4 linked regions of the Homo sapiens genome follow. The protein of the gene in region 1 purifies or fractionates together with the protein of each later gene. This does not show direct contact. Each region holds a gene or a part of one and is shown in the gene's direction. Other genes may lie near its edges.

Evidence for each region.
Region 2: the proteins of ZC3HAV1 (region 1) and NSA2 purify together in Homo sapiens (affinity purification with mass spectrometry; 2 studies listed by BioGRID and IntAct, with this or other methods). This does not show direct contact.
Region 3: the proteins of ZC3HAV1 (region 1) and HP1BP3 purify together in Homo sapiens (affinity purification with mass spectrometry; 2 studies listed by BioGRID and IntAct, with this or other methods). This does not show direct contact.
Region 4: the proteins of ZC3HAV1 (region 1) and NMNAT1 purify together in Homo sapiens (affinity purification with mass spectrometry; 2 studies listed by BioGRID and IntAct, with this or other methods). This does not show direct contact.

What each region holds. Positions count from the first base shown.
Region 1 is NC_000007.14:139,081,006-139,086,594, reverse strand, and holds part of ZC3HAV1 (zinc finger CCCH-type antiviral protein 1), read left to right. Parts: intron 1-2,562; coding exon 2,563-2,815; intron 2,816-5,589.
Region 2 is NC_000005.10:74,773,749-74,777,248, forward strand, and holds part of NSA2 (ribosome biogenesis protein NSA2 homolog), read left to right. Parts: intron 1-119; coding exon 120-312; intron 313-2,855; coding exon 2,856-2,923; 3' UTR 2,924-3,500. UniProt on the Homo sapiens protein: Involved in the biogenesis of the 60S ribosomal subunit. May play a part in the quality control of pre-60S particles.
Region 3 is NC_000001.11:20,773,808-20,777,307, reverse strand, and holds part of HP1BP3 (heterochromatin protein 1-binding protein 3), read left to right. Parts: intron 1-557; coding exon 558-711; intron 712-3,500. UniProt on the Homo sapiens protein: Component of heterochromatin that maintains heterochromatin integrity during G1/S progression and regulates the duration of G1 phase to critically influence cell proliferative capacity.
Region 4 is NC_000001.11:9,977,975-9,981,474, forward strand, and holds part of NMNAT1 (nicotinamide/nicotinic acid mononucleotide adenylyltransferase 1), read left to right. Parts: intron 1-3,056; coding exon 3,057-3,196; intron 3,197-3,281; coding exon of another isoform or gene 3,282-3,325; exon of another isoform or gene 3,326-3,500.

The sequences.
Region 1 (5,589 bases):
GCAGATATGAACCTAAGACAAGGCACTGTTGTGTAAGGGATCCCAGAAGAGCCCATTGACTACAGTGCTGTGAGGGTCCCTATAGGAAAATGTTGTCATCATACTTTTATCAAACAGTGCAAACAAGAGGTCAGCATCACCCAAGGCTCCCTTTCCATTGTTAGAATTCAGTACCCACAATTAGAGGGTGGGGTGGGGTGGGGAGGTTCTTGCCTGAAGCTTATTTTTAGCTAATAATTTAATTGCTGTTTTCCACTCGTCAGAGTTAAGATCCCAGAATGGGGGACTGCATTATTTCCTGAACTAGAGGTCTGAGGAGCTGGTTTCTGGAGTTAGCATGAGTTAGTACTGTTGGTATAAGTTTTTGTTCAAGAATGCTGGGCAAGAGAAGGCTCTAAAGGAGTGTTTTAACTTAGGGGAGTAGGATGGAATTTTTTCATAGGGCTTTGGCAGGAGGAGTCAGCCAGAGTTCAGCTAATTTCAAGAAGAGTTGGTCCAGGATGGCTCTCTAAAGATGGAGGAATTATCCCTGCAGATTTGCAGCTGTTGTTTGGGCAATTTGGATTTTTTTTTTTTTCTTTTTTGAGATGGAGTCTCACTCTGTCTCCCAGGCTGGAGTGCAGTGGTGCAATTTCAGGTCCTGCAACCTCCGTCTCGGGTTCAAGCAATTCTCCTGCCTCAGTTTCCCGTGTAGCTGGGATTACAGCCATACACCACCACACCCGGATAATTTTTTGTATTTTTCGTAGAGATGGGGTTTCACCATGTTGGCCAGGCTGGTCTCAAACTCCTGACCTCAGGTGATCCTCCCGCCTCAGCCTCCCAAAGTGCTGGGATTACAGGTGTGAGCCACCATGCCCAGCCTGAACCACTGTGCCTGGCTGATTTGGATTTTATCAGAAGGAAAGAGGAGGAAGAGAGGGGCGAAGTTAAGTGTAAGAGGCAGTGCAGAGAAACAGCTTTGTGGTTTAGGGGGTGTGAGATGGGGACCACAGTGAAATGTTTCCAGTCACTTCATTGATTGCTTTGCATTCATTCAACTAACATTTAAAAGCACCTGCAAGTGTTAGTCACAATGTTAAAATACTGGAGGTAACCAGTGGGAAGCCACACACTCAGCCCTAAAAAACTACGTATTCACACTTTTTCATTTTGCTTTGACTTGTGAGAACATAAAAAGATCAGGCAAACCTGACTGCCTGATATATAAACTTGTACAATTGAAATGTGCTTCTTAAAGGAAGAAATGCTTTCATTTGTTCTGGTCTAATGAAGGCAGGAGCATTCTTGCTTAATATCGGCGTGGGAATAGGAATGTTACCAAAACATCATTTGTGAAGTTGCTAATGGTGCTTTTTTGCTACAGCTCAAACTTTAGCGGACATCAGAATCATCCAGAAGGTTTGTTAAAACACAGACTGTTGGGCCCCACCTCTGATGGTTCAGACTCTATAGATATGGGCAAGTGCCTGAAGATTTGCATTTCTAACAAATTTACAGGTAGTGCTGATGGTGCTGGTCCGGGGACCACACTTTGAGAATTGCTGGTCTAGAGTCTAGAATCTGGATCATAGACTTGATAGCAGTTACATATATCTATTTGAATCAGGTTTTAGCGATTATCCATGTGGCAAAATCATTGCTAGTGGGGTTTGAATCATGGCTTGCCATCTAGACAGATCACAGTGAACCATACTGATCTGGTTTGCTCAGAGTCTATCGAAGTGACTCATTAAAATGTCTGAAATTCAGGTTTCTTACTAATTATATTGGTTTCCTCATTTCATGGTTCAAACACGTGCATCACACTTTATATTTTGCATAACGCATTTACAAATTTTGCTATTTAGTCTGCTTAACAACTTGGTTTTTGTAGACAGAACAAATCTTTTCCTCCTGTTACAGCAAAGGAAACGGAGGCTAAGAGTAGGTAAGGGATCCCTTGAGGTCACACAGCTGCTTCCAGGGCCTCAGATTTTAAAACCAGCATCCTCCAGTTCTGTATCATATGGCGTGGCCTCAGCTGCAGTATTTTCTCTGCCCTCTTTCCAGTAGGGACTACATCTCTTCAGAGCTAGTCACGTACATGTATCTATTTAGATGGAAATACAAAACTTATCTTCTTTAGGCAATCTTTTGAGAAATGTCATTCTGCCTAGCAGAGTCTAAATTTTGGATTTCCAAACAGTTGCAGGTAAGACCCACATGTCCTTTTCATTGCAAAGTGAGTTGATAACCAAAGATGAGCCTTCCTGTGCTGGGTTCCTTCATGATATAGGGCTCACTTTGGGTCCTGTTTGTAGCTAACCAGCTTACATTGATTCTTCCAAGGGTTATCAAATTGATCAGTATCTTTTGGTTAGTCTGTGGACCTCTTCTGCCCCAAGTAAATCACCAACTGAATGTGACTCATCAAAGACTGCAGAATATGCATGTATTTTTCCCCCTTTGGTATATCTCTGCTTGCTTCAGAGATTTTTGCACACGTGAGCTTGCCTTAATGAATGTTTGGCAAATACAAGAAGGTGTTTTGACTCTGGCTGTTGTTTCTCCCTTCTGTAGATATGCAAAAGTTATAAGGGAGAGGGTCGGCAGCAGATTTGTAACCAGCAGCCACCGTGTTCAAGACTCCACATCTGTGACCACTTCACCCGAGGGAACTGTCGTTTTCCCAACTGCCTCCGGTCCCATAACCTGATGGACAGAAAGGTGCTGGCCATCATGAGGGAGCACGGGCTGAACCCCGACGTGGTCCAGAACATCCAGGACATCTGCAACAGCAAGCACATGCAGAAGAATCCCCCAGGGCCCAGAGGTAAAGGCCTTTTCTTTTTCAATTGTGTGAACTCTTTTTTTTTTTTTTTTTTTGAGACAGAGTCTCTCTCTGTCACCCAAGCTGGAGTACAGTGGCGTGATCTCAGCTCACTGCAACCTCTGCCTCCCAGGTTCAAGTGATTCTCCTGCCTCAGCCTCCCGAGTAGCTGGGATTACAGGTGTGCACCACCACACCCAGCTAATTTTTGTATAAATTAGAGACGGGGTTTCGCCATGTTGGCCAGGCTGGCCTTGAACTCCTTACCTAAGGTAATCTCCCTGCCTCAGCCTTTCAAAGTGCTGGGATTACAAGCATGAGCCACTGCACCCGGCCAATTGTGTGAACTTTCAAATCAGCAGAAATCACAAGGAAAGAAAAACTGCCATAATCACTCTACCTTGCCGTGTAAAACTCTTCATTTTCCCTTCCAAACTTCATGCATATGTATACACCATTTTTACATAATTATAATGGTAGTATACATGCAGTGTTTGCAATTCAATTTTTATGCTTAGCACTATTGCCCCCCCCCCCAGGTTTAAAAAAGTGTATATCATTTTTCTAAAAACTAATTAACAAAGCTTTTTTTTAAGGAAAAGAAACAAACATAAAATTGTTTAGATTTATCAGCTGTTAACATTTTGTCCCAATTGCTTTAGCACTTTCTTTCTCTCTATGTATACATGCAGCTACTCACACACACGTAGAACATTTTGGTGTTTAAAGCATTTGATATATGTAAATATCATGACATTTCACACCTGAATATATCAGCATGTATCTCCTCAGAACAAGGCCATTCTCTTACATAATCACAAGACAATTAATACAGAAAATTTATTATTGATGCAAAACTATGTATAATTTAATTTATGGTCCTCAGTGCCATTTCTTTAAAAAAAAACCAATATTTTAAAATTTCTAAAAAAAGCCACAATAACTCCCATTCCCTTCTTTCCCCAGCCCCTGGCAACTAACATTCTGCTTTCTGTTTGTATGAATTTGACAACCCTAGGTACTTCATATAAGTGGAATCGTACAATATTTATCCTTTTCTGACTGGCTTATTTCACTTAGCATGATGTCCTCAGGGTTCATCCATGTTATAGCATATGTCAGAATGAATATTTCATTGTATGTATATAATTATAAATTTTTTATCCATTCATCTGTCGATGGATATTTGGGCCATTTCCAGTTTGGCTATTGTGAATAATGCTGCTGTAAACATGGTGTACAGATACCACTTTGAGACCCTGTTTTCAGTTCCTCGGGGGTATATAATCAGAAGTAGAATTGCTGGATCATATGGTAATTCTATGTTTAATTTTTGGAGGAACGATCATACCATTTTTTGTAGCAGCTGTGCCATTTTTCATTTCTGCCAGCAGTGCACATGGGTTCAAATTTCTCACATCCTCTATCATTTTGTGTTTTCTGATTTTTTTTTTTAATAATAGCCATCCTAAGGAGTATGAAGTGCTATTACTTTTTTTTTTCTTTCCTGTTTTGAGACAGAGTCTCACTCTGTCACCCAGGCTGGAGTTCAGTGGTGCGACCTCGGCTCACTGCAATGGCCGGCCGCCTCCTGGGTTCAAGTGATTCTTCTGCTTCAGTCTCCCAAGTAGCTGGGATTACAGGTGCCTGCCACCACTCCCAGCTAATTTTTGTATTTTTAGTAGAGACGGGTTTTCATCATGTTGGCCAGGCTGGTCTTGAACTCCTGACCTCAAGTGATCCACCCACCTTAGCCTCCCAAAGTGCTGGGATTACAGGCGTAAGCCACCATGCCCAGCCAAGTGCTGCTATTTCTGAAGCATTTTCATATTATATAATGGCATTCATTTTTAATGTCTTTATGAAGTGGATGTAGGAAAGATGAATTTTATGAAGCAGATAGAATACATGATTCTAGGATTCTGTGCAAATTAATGAACAATTAAACCTCCTTATATTTGGGAAATGGTTTATCATTTACAAGGGACTTTCATCCCAAATAAATATTTCATCATTGTTCCTCACAGTGAAACCACAAAGAAAGGTAGATATGTCATTTTTTAGCCTTACTTAAGAGGGTAAAGAAACTGAGGCTCAGAAATAGTAAGCAATGTTTATTGCAAGCAGCCTCAGCTCATTTTTAGAAGAATGAAGGATAATGTAATGAAGAAATAAAAGGTAACATTTTCAAGGCCTCACATCACTAGAAAGTAGCAGAGTGCATGTTCTGATCCCATATCTAATGCTTTTTCTCTCTCACTACAGTTCCCTCTGAACAGAGGAATGTCTGGAGGGATGGGTTTTGGTGGTAGCTTCTCAATGTAAACTTATTGTGAATGAGAAAGATCTGTATATATTTTCACTTCCAGTTAATCTCCTGAGTTAAGCCTTTTCTTGACAGGAGGAGGGTGTTTGCTTTTACTACATAACTACTGCCCCCTGGGTTTGGAAGAGAAAAAAAATGTCTCTTCTACCCCTTCCCCACACAAAAAAGCACAATTCACACACACACACGAGCACACATGCACACCTCACATTCACACACCACACGTGCACATGTGCCTCAAACACAGACATGCACATCTTCCACATGTACCCCCGGCACACAAACACACCCCACATAAACATCACGTGCATGCACGCCACACACACTCCACACGCGCTCACAAACACACCCTAACTCCTTCCTTCCTCCCTGCTTCCAGAAGGGTGTGACCTATCAAGTTTCTAGAGGAAGGCCAATTCCCTGCAGGCCACACTGCTTTGTCGATGTTGAC
Region 2 (3,500 bases), on another chromosome or scaffold:
TGACATTATTCAACCATAGTTTTTTGGAGATGGTTGAAAAAGATAAGCGAAAACGACCACTACTCATCACTGTTAACATTTTGGACGTAAACATTCTTATGTTGTGTTTGACTTACTAGGGCTTGCGTTTCAAGAAAGCCCATGTAACACATCCTGAACTGAAAGCCACCTTTTGCCTACCAATACTTGGTGTAAAGAAGAATCCCTCATCCCCACTGTATACAACTTTGGGTGTTATTACCAAAGGTACTGTCATTGAAGTAAATGTGAGCGAATTGGGCCTTGTGACACAAGGAGGCAAAGTTATTTGGGGTAAGTGAATTTTTGAATACAGGGCTGCTGTGTTCTGCAGTACTAATAGAAATACTATTCAAGTTGATGTATTAATAAAATATACAGCAAATTTTTTTAATGCAGTAGAGCTAAAACACTGTAAATCAGATGTAAATATTTAGTAAAAAATACTTTATAGAAAAAGTTGTTATAAATACAATTGTTTTAAAATTTAGCTTACTGGTTTTAGTTACATAAGGTGTAATACATTCTGCTAGATTTATTTTTATCCTTTTTAGCCAGGCACAGCAGCTCACGCATGTAAATCCCAGCACTTTGGGAGGCTGAGGCGGGTGGATCACCTGAAGTCAGGAGTTTGAGACCAGCCTGGCCAACATGGCAAAACCCCACCTCTACTAAAAATACAAAAAAATCAGCCGGGTGTGGTGGCGAGCACCTCTAATCCCAGCCACTTGGGAGGCTGAGGCAGGAGAATCACTTGAACTCAGGAGGCGGAGCTTGCAGTGAGCTGAGATTGTGCCACTGCACTCCAGACTGGGAGACAGAGCAAATCTCCATCTCAAAAAAAATTTTTTTAACCTTTTTAATAAAAATTATTATAAGGGAAGCAGATGCAAAGTTATAACTAAGAAATATTATAAGAAAATAGAATAAATTAACCATGAGCAGAGGAAGGGAGGCATATATCAAACATATTTTAAAAGTGAGGTCAGCTTACATGAAGTATTAGCCAATGACTAAAGATGTCTTCCGTAAGAAAAAATTTCTTTTGCCACAACTTTATATTATGTAAATACTTCTTATATTTACATGCTAACATTAAGAGAAAATACCTATTACATTTAAAGAAATAGAACTATCTGTCCCACGTAGGTAAACTGATCATTGAAACTGCCAGGAGCGGTGGCTCAGCCTGTAATCCCAGCACTTTGGGAGGCTGAGGCGGACAGATCATCTGCAGTCAGGAGTTCAAGACCAGCCTGGCCAACATGGTGAAACCCCATCTCTACTAAAAATACACAAATTAGCCAGGTGTTGTGGCCCACACCTGTAATCCCAGCTGCTCCGGTGGCTGAGGCAGGAGAATCGCTTGAACCTGGGAGGTGGAGCTTGCAGTGAGCTGAGATCGTGCCATTGCACTCCAGCCTGGATGACAGAGCGAGACTCTGTCTCAAAAAGTAATAATAATAATTGAAAGTGATTTAACACAGTTTAGTTCGTTCTGTTAATTCCCATTAACAGGTCTCAGAAATCATGTAGAAGCTTCCAGGCTTTAAAAAGCCCCCTCGCTATCTGGGCGCAGTGGCTGACACCTATAATCCCAGCACTTGGGGAGGCCGAGGCAGGCGGTTCACTTGAGACTGGAGTTGGAGACCAGCCTGGCCAACATGACAAAACGCCGTCTCTACTAAAAATACAAAACAATTAGCCAGGTGTGGTTGTGGGTGCCTGTAATTCCAGCTACTCGGGAGGCTGAGGCAGGAGAATCACATGAACCTGGAGCTTGCAGTGAGCTGAGATCATGCCACTGCACTCCGGCCTGGGAGACAGAGCAAGCCTCCATCTCAAAAATAAGTAAAATAAAAATATTTTGATCTTTTTTAATAAAAATTCTTTATTACAAGGGAAGCAGATGCAAAGTTATAACTAAAAAAAATTGTAAAAAAAAAATAGAATAAATTAACCATGAGCCGAGGGAGGCATACAACATATAATCACACTAGATCAGTAATAATTAAAACAGAAATGTGTCATGCAGTAATTTTAAACGCCCTCATTTGCTTAGTTTTCTACCTTTAGTACCCAGATCCAATTTCTTTGAAAGGGAAGAATACACGCTACAACTTCTTCAGTCATTGGTTTATACTTCATGTCAGCTGACCTCAGTTTTAAAATATGTTGTTACCTTGACTTGAAACTCATTTGAAACTTGATACATTTTCCAGGAAGAATTATGTGAAAAAGTGACAATGCTCAGGTCAATCCACAAAAGCCTGTTAATGCAATGTACTAATAACATGGAGCTGGCCATTATTTGCAAAAACACTATTTGTATGAAAATTGTATTCAGAACTCAAATTTGTCCTTAAATGATTGAATTTTGTAAAATCTCATTTATCCTTTATGGTTCATTTCTTATTTATTGAAAGTGGTAATTAGAAATATTTTAGGCATGGCTGGGCGCAGTGGCTCACACCTATAATCACAGCACTTTGGGAGGCCAAGGCAGGCGGATCATTTGAGCTCAGGAGTTCGAGCCCAGCCTGGGCAACATGGCAAAACCACATCTCTACAAAATACAAAAACAAAAAAATTAGCCAGGCAGTGGCGTGTGCCTGTGGTCCCAGCTACCCGGAAGACTGAGTGAGGAGAATCGCTTGAGCCCAGGAGGCAGAGGTTGCAGTGAGCCAGATCACGCCACCACACTGCAGCCTGGGGAATAAGAGTGAAACCCTGTATTAAGACAAAAAGAAAAAAAAGGCAAAAGTTATATTCTTTAAAATTAATTTTTATTAGCTAACAACCCTCCCTTTTCCCTTTTTTGGTTTTGTTTTCCTTAGGAAAATATGCCCAGGTTACCAACAATCCTGAAAATGATGGATGTATAAATGCAGTCTTACTGGTTTGACAGCAATTTCATATATAATTATTGAGGACTACACACCAATTGAAGAAACTGCCATTACTGTGATGTTTCTGAATACTACCAAACAGCCATACATGTCTGCAATGAAGAGATTTATTAAATTGTAAACATTAAAGTGGTCCAGTTTTATAAATGGTCTTTATTTTGAAATACGCTTTGACCCCATGTTCATAAAACTGAATGATTGAAAAAAAGCAAATATACAAATATCCTACTTCATCAATATCTGCATTTGTGAGTGGGTATTCAGCAATTTCCTGAAAAAACCACCAGTGTTCATTGAAAATGCCTTTCAAAAAGGTTAATACACAATTATGTGTCTGAGAATTTAACTGAAGTATCTTCAAAATCTCGTTAATCATTAATCCTAAAAAAGGTAGGTAGCATTAATACAGATGTTAAGTTTATAGTGTTTGTTTACACTAGAAGTATGTGAGAAGACACTAAAAGTTCAGAAATCTTAGAGAAATCTTTTCACCTGTGAAATCCAGTACAGCAAAGGTCTAGTGAATTCACATTCTAAACATTTTTTTCATCTCATTTACCATGTATAATAATA
Region 3 (3,500 bases), on another chromosome or scaffold:
TTTTTTATTTTTTTTATTTTTATTTTTTTTTGGAGTTCTCTGAAGTCCCTGCATAACCAGTGCCTGGGGTTCTGTGTTTTATAGTAGCTACTCAGAGACATGCTGTGAAGGAAAGGCACAAATAGCAGCAGACCTCCATGTTCCCCTCATATTTCTACTCTTGCTTCAGTCATTCCTCTTGGAGAATACATGAGTTTTTAAATTACTTATTCTCTGAGATTTGCCTGTTGAATTATAAAATGGCTAGTTTCTTAATTATGAGTCTCATGAATATTGCAAAGTAGAATAATTAAACAATTGGGGATGAAATGAGTTTTCCTTTCTATGTAATTTCCTGGTCTATTTTTCTAATAATAGATAAATAACCACCTGACCAGGAAACTTGAGTGACATAAAGAATGTAAGAAAACTGCATTAGTGGTCATTCATTTTCATTTTAGAATTCATTTGTTAATTGGAGACTTTGGCTGGTCCGTTTAATAAGATAAGCTTTTACCTTTTATTGACTCAGATTGGAATACATCTGCTTATGCAATTCTGCTCACCTGATTTTTTAGAACCAGACATAAGTTCAGAGGAATCTGTCTCCACTGTAGAAGAACAAGAGAATGAAACTCCACCTGCTACTTCGAGTGAGGCAGAGCAGCCAAAGGGGGAACCTGAGAATGAAGAGAAGGAAGAAAATAAGTCTTCTGAGGAAACCAAAAAGGAGTAAGGAGTTATGTCTTCTTGCTATTTATATTTGAAGAATGTGTAAAAGGACTTTAGATTAGATTGTTTTAAAGTGTTATAACATTGGTTTATGCTAGGTATTTGCTATTTGGATTTAATTTTTAGAATTACCATTTGAAATAGGTTTATTATATAGTTGTTTGACCTGTTAGAATATGCTGTAGTTAGCAGAACACAATGGTTTGAATAATCCAAAAGTCTTTGTCATTGGCTTTGGAATGTGTTTTTGAGCTTGTAATTTATTGTGGGAGTATCTGATATTTTAAGCATTGGCAAGACTTCAATAAGAAATGAAACATAACTATAAAAATCTGACCTAGAAGACATTTCACTATTTTATTCCTACTTCTGTGCCAGGAGTGGGTTGTTTTTGTGTGCTTATGTTAGAAGGCATTGATTTGTATCAAGCCATTGGTAGTGTGACCTAAAAGTCTATATATGTTTGATGAAATATTCAGTTGAAGAATTGGCTTTGAGAATCTGAAAGTAAAATTTGCTATTGATGTGTATCTATATAAAGTGATGGCAGTTACTTTTTAATTTTTAATTTTTTTTTTTTTTTTTTTGCAGGAGAGCTGATAGTATTCATTCCACTCTTTTCATAATTGGTCAGAACAGTTAGAAATTGCTTTTAACTATAGTCATGCATTGCTTAACAATGGGTATACATTCTGAGAGATACATCTTTAGGCGATTTCATCATCGTGCCAACATCATAAAGTGTACTTACACAAACCTACGTGGTACAGCCTACTACATACCTAGGCTTTATGGGATAGTCTGTTGCTTCTAGGCTACAAACCTGTACAGCATGTTACTGTACTAAATACTGTAGGCAGTTATAACACAACGGTAAGTATTTGTGTATTTAAACATAGAAAAGGTACAGTAAAAATATAATATAAAAGATAAAAAATGGTATACCTGTGTAGGACACCTACCATGAATGGACCTTAAAGGATTGGAAGTTGTTTGGGTGAGTGAGTGAGTGGTAAGTGAATGCAAAGGCCTAGGACTACTGTGTGCAACTTTTAAAACTAAAAAGTTTTTATTTTTAGCAACTTTTAAAACTAAAAAGTTTTTATTTTTAAAAACTTTTAAAACTTTACCAAAAACAAAGACACAAGCCGGACGCAATGGTGCACAGCTGTAGCCCTAGCTACTTAGGAAGCTGAGGTGGGGGGATTGCTTGAGTCCTGAAATTTGAATCTAGATTGGGCAACGTTGTGAGACCTCATATTTATAAAAAAACAAAACTAAGACACATACACACACCTTAACCTAGGCCTGCACAAGGTCAGGGTCATCAATATCACTGTCTTCCACCTCCAGATCTTGTCCCACTCAAGGCCTTCAGGGGCAGCAACACACATGGACCTGTCATTTCCTATGATAACAGTGCTGTCTTTTGGAATACCTTCTGAAGGACCTGCTTGAGGCTGTTTTACAGTTAACTTTTTTTTTGTAGGTAGAAAACATATACTCTAATGATAAAAAGTATAGTATAGTAAACACATAAACTAGTAGCATAGCTGTTTATTATCAGGTATTATGTATAATTGTAATGTGCTTTTTTTTTTTTTTTGAGATGGAGTCTTACTCTGTCACCCAGGTTGGAGTGTGGAGTGCAGTGGCGCGATCTGGGCTCACTGCAACCTCCACCTCCCAGGTTCAAGCGATTCTCCTGCCTCAACCTGCCAAGTAGCTGGGACTACAGGCGTGCACCTCCACACCTAGCTAATTTTTGTATTTTCAGGAGAGACGGGGGTTTCACCATGTTGGCCAGGATGGTCTCAATCTTTTGACCTTGTGATCCGCCCACCTTGGCCTCCCAAAGTGCTGGGATTACAGGCATGAGTCACCGCGCCCAGCCAATATGCTATATTTTTGTATGACTGGCAGCACTGTAGGTTTGTTTACACCAATGTCACCACAAACAAGTGAGTAACGTGCTGCGCTGTGATATTACCACAGCTATCATGTTAACCAGGTAATAGGAGGTTTTCAGTTCCATTATAATCTTAAGGGACCACCATTGTATATGTGGTCTGTTGACCAAATATTGTTACACAGCACATGACCATAAAAGAATAACTTAGTAATAACTATACCTTCTAGCTATAATCTTCAGGGTATTCTTTATCTGAGTTTCATAAGTATAGCTAAGGTCTGTGGAATTTATAGCAACTATCGTGTGTGGGTGTGGGTGTGTTTGTGTGTGTGTGTGTGTGTTTAATGGAGATGGCGTCTCACTATGTTGGCTAGGTTGGGCTTGAACTCCTGGCCTCAAGCTGTCCTCCCTCCTCAGCCTCCTAAATTGCTGGGATTACAGGCATGAGCCACTGCACCCAGCCTATCGTCTGTTGTTAAATGTTCTAATGCACCTATTAGGTGCACAGAGTACTGTTATATACTCAGAATAAAATTTACATAATGCTTTAAATCTCACAAAATTGTTTTGATAAACATACTCTTATAATTCTTGCAACACCTTGGGAAATAGTTGGTTCTATATTACTGTTTTATAGCTGAGGAGAAAGACTCACATCATTTACTAAGATCATATAGCTAGCTAGTAAATGTTTGAGTGAAAATACAAACAAAGGTTTTCTGACTTTAAGAGCTTGAGTTTTTTCCACTATACCATATTGCATCTGTTGTAATTGTTAACTAATGTGCATTTTAAAATTCTCATTTGTCTTATGTACTGAGCCCTTATACCAGTGCTAATTTATGTGACTCCTTTCTCCTGCAGCTAAGAGAAAAAT
Region 4 (3,500 bases), on another chromosome or scaffold:
AGTCTCCTGAAGTTGGTGACGGACAGTGGACTCCAGCGTCTAGCCACCACACCCACACTAGAAAGGATTACTGGCTATAAATAGCGCAATAATAGGATCAGGCCGGGCATGGTGGCTCACACCTGTAATCCCAGCACTTTGGGAGGCCGAGGTGGGTGGATCACCTGAGGTCAGGAGATCGAGACCACCCTGGCCAACATGGCAAACCCCGTCTCTACTAAAAATACAAAAATTAGCCAGGCGTGGTGGCACATGCCTATAGTCCCAGCTACTTGGGAGGCTGAGGTGGGAGAATCCCTTGAACCCGGGAGGTGGAGGTTGCAGTGAGCCGAGATTGCGCCACTGCACTCCAGCCTGGGTGACAGAGTGAGACTCCGTCTCAAAAAAAAAGATTACTTGTCAGGCTCCACAGTCCCAGGATGATGGCCTCTGTCCTCCTTCTGCCTTCCAAATCTCTCAGGAGAGAATCTCATTAGCAGAAATCGCAGTCAAGTCCACAGCCTGCTGCAAGGACCTCTGGGAAGTGTGTTGGGCAGGATTGGGCACTGAGTCAGTAGGAAGTATCTCACACAGTGATCTCTCAAGAGGACTTCCTTTTCAGACTTGGCAGGGAGAAGAGTCTCCACTGCTTGATGGCAAAAAATTCTCCCATGAGGGAGCAAGTTCCTGGGCCACAGCCCTACCCGACCCTCTGGCTTTATAGTAACCTTATTGCCCATTAAATAGTCAACTCAGCTGCTCAGAAGGGTTGGGATGTAGGGGAATAAAGGCCCACAGTTGGATCCCACAAGTGTAGTTGATGTTATTTGGGTAACATTGCACAGTTTGAAAACAGTGGGCACCCTGCTGCCAGCCCAGAATAGAGCTATACACAAATCCTGCTTAGGGCCCCTTCCTTTAAGGCCTCAGGCCCTTGCCGCTCTAGGACCTTCTCCTTGGCGTTCTGGTTCTTTGTCACAAGATTAAGCCACACTCTTCCATGGTCAAGAGTGTGGGCTCTGGACCAGACTGCTGGGGTTCAAGTCCTGGCTCTGCTATTAATACTTTTAAGTTAAATGACCTTAGGCAAATTAGTCAGTGTCCTCTGTCAATGGGGTAATAAACAATTCTGATATGAGAGATGAGCAGCACATTAAAACCAGAAGTATTTTCAGTGAAACTAGCTGCAAGGTGGCAGTAATATAGTCGCTTTGTAATAACCAAAATGTTCAGGCTGATCATGGTGGCTCACATCTATAGTCCCAGCACTTTGGGAGTCTGAGGCAGGAGGATTGCTTGAGGCCAGGAGTTCAAGACCAGTGTGGGCAACATAGTGAGACCTCATCTCTCCAAAAAACTAAAGTTAGCTGAACATGGTGGCACGTGCCTGTAGTCGCAGCTATCTGGGAGGCTGAGGCGGTAGGATCACTTGAGCCCAGGAGTTTTGGTTGCAGCGAGCTATGATTGTGCCACTGTGCTCCATCCTGGGCAATAGAGTGAGCCTGTGTCTCTGAAAAACAAACCAAAAAAACCCCAAAACATTCACTCAATCAAATTGTTATTGAGGCTGGGCGCAGTGGCTCACGCCTGTAATCCCAGCACTTTGGGAGGCCTAGGCGGGCAGATCACAAGGTCAGGAGATCGAGACCATCCTGGCTAACATGGTGAAACCCTGTCTCTACTAAAAATACAGAAAAAATTAGCCGGGCGTGGTGGTGGGCGCCTGTAGTCCCAGCTACTCGGGAGGCTGAAGCAGGAGAATGGCGTGAACCTAGGAGACGGAGGTTGCAGTGAGCTGAGATCGTGCCACTGCACTCCAGCCTGGGCGACAGAGTGAGACTCCATCTCAAAAAAAAAAAAAAAAATTGTTATTGAATGCCTCCTCATAGACTCTGCTAGGAGCTGGAGTAGCAACTGTAAGCCTCCTTTCTCCTTCCCTTACGGAGATAATAATATTTATGATATAGGATGTTGAGAAGATTTTTTTTTTCTTTTGAGGCGGAGTTTTGCTCTTGTTGCCCAGGCTGGAGTGCAATAGCGCAATCATGGCTCACTGCAACCTCCACCTCCTGGGTTCAAGCGATTCTCCTGCCTCAGCCTCCCGAGTAGCTGGGATTATAGGCATGTGCCACCACACCCGGCTAATTTTCTATTTTTAGCAGAGACAGGGTTTCTCCATGTTGGTCAGGCTGTGTCTCGAACTCCTGACCTCAGGTGATCCACCCGCCTTGGCCTCCCAAAGTGCTGGGATTACAGGTGTGAGCCACCACGCCCAGTCGAGAAGATTTTTAATTTTTTTTAGTCTTCCACAACAGTCATCTTATGTTGAGAAGACTTAATCAGATAATCCATGTAAAGGATTCAGTGTAATGTGTGGCATATGATAAATAATGTTGGCCAGGCACCTATAATCCCAGCACTTTGGGAGGCTGAGGCGGGCAGATCGCTTGAGGTCAGAAGTTCAAGACCAGCCTGGCCAACATGATGAAACCCCGTCACTACTAAAAATACAAAAAAAAATTGGCTGAGCGTGGTGGTGCGCCCCTGTAATCCCAGCTGCTCGGGAGGCTGAGGCAAGAGAATTGTTTGAACCCAGGAGCCAGAGGTTACAGTGAGCTGAGATCACACACTGCACTCAGCCTGGGCGTCAGAGCAAGACACCATCTCAAAATAATAAATAAATAAATAATGTTAATGATATTCTTTTTTTTTTCTTTTTTTGAGATGGAGTCTCACTCTGTCGCCCAGGTTGGAGTGCAGTGGTGCGGTCTTGGCTCACTGCAACCTCTGCCTCCCAGGTTCAAGTGATTCTCCTGCCTCAGCCTCCCGAGTAGCTGGGATTACAGGTGCCCGCCACCACACCCGGCTAATTTTTTGTATTTTTAGTAGAGACGGGGTTTCACCGTGTTAGCCAGGATGGTCTCGATCTTCTGACCTCGTGATCCGCCCACCTCGGCCTCCCAAAGTGCTGGGATTACAGGTGTGAGCCACTGTGCCCAGCTATAAATAATGTTAATGATATATTCTAATGGAGCATGTGAGAAAGAGAAATATTCTATTGTTTTGTTGTTTTATAGACACCATCAAGAGAAATTGGAGGCTAGTGACTGTGATCACCAGCAGAACTCACCTACTCTAGAAAGGCCTGGAAGGAAGAGGAAGTGGACTGAAACACAAGATTCTAGTCAAAAGAAATCCCTAGAGCCAAAAACAAAAGGTTTGTATGTTTTAGCAGGACCCACGGACTAGAGTTGATAAGATTCTGTAGCTGAGCAAACCCCTGTGTATTTTTTTTTTTTTAGATGGAGTCTCGCTCTATCACCCAGGCTGGAGTGCAGTGGCATGATCTCAGCTCACTGCAAGCTCTGCCTCCTGGGTTCATGCCATTCTCCTGCCTCAGCCTCCTGAGCAGCTGGGACTACAGGTGCCTGCCACCACGCCTGTCTAATTTGTTTGTATTTTTAGTAGAGACGGGGTTGCACCATGTTAGCCAGGATGGTCTTGATCTCCTGACCTCATGA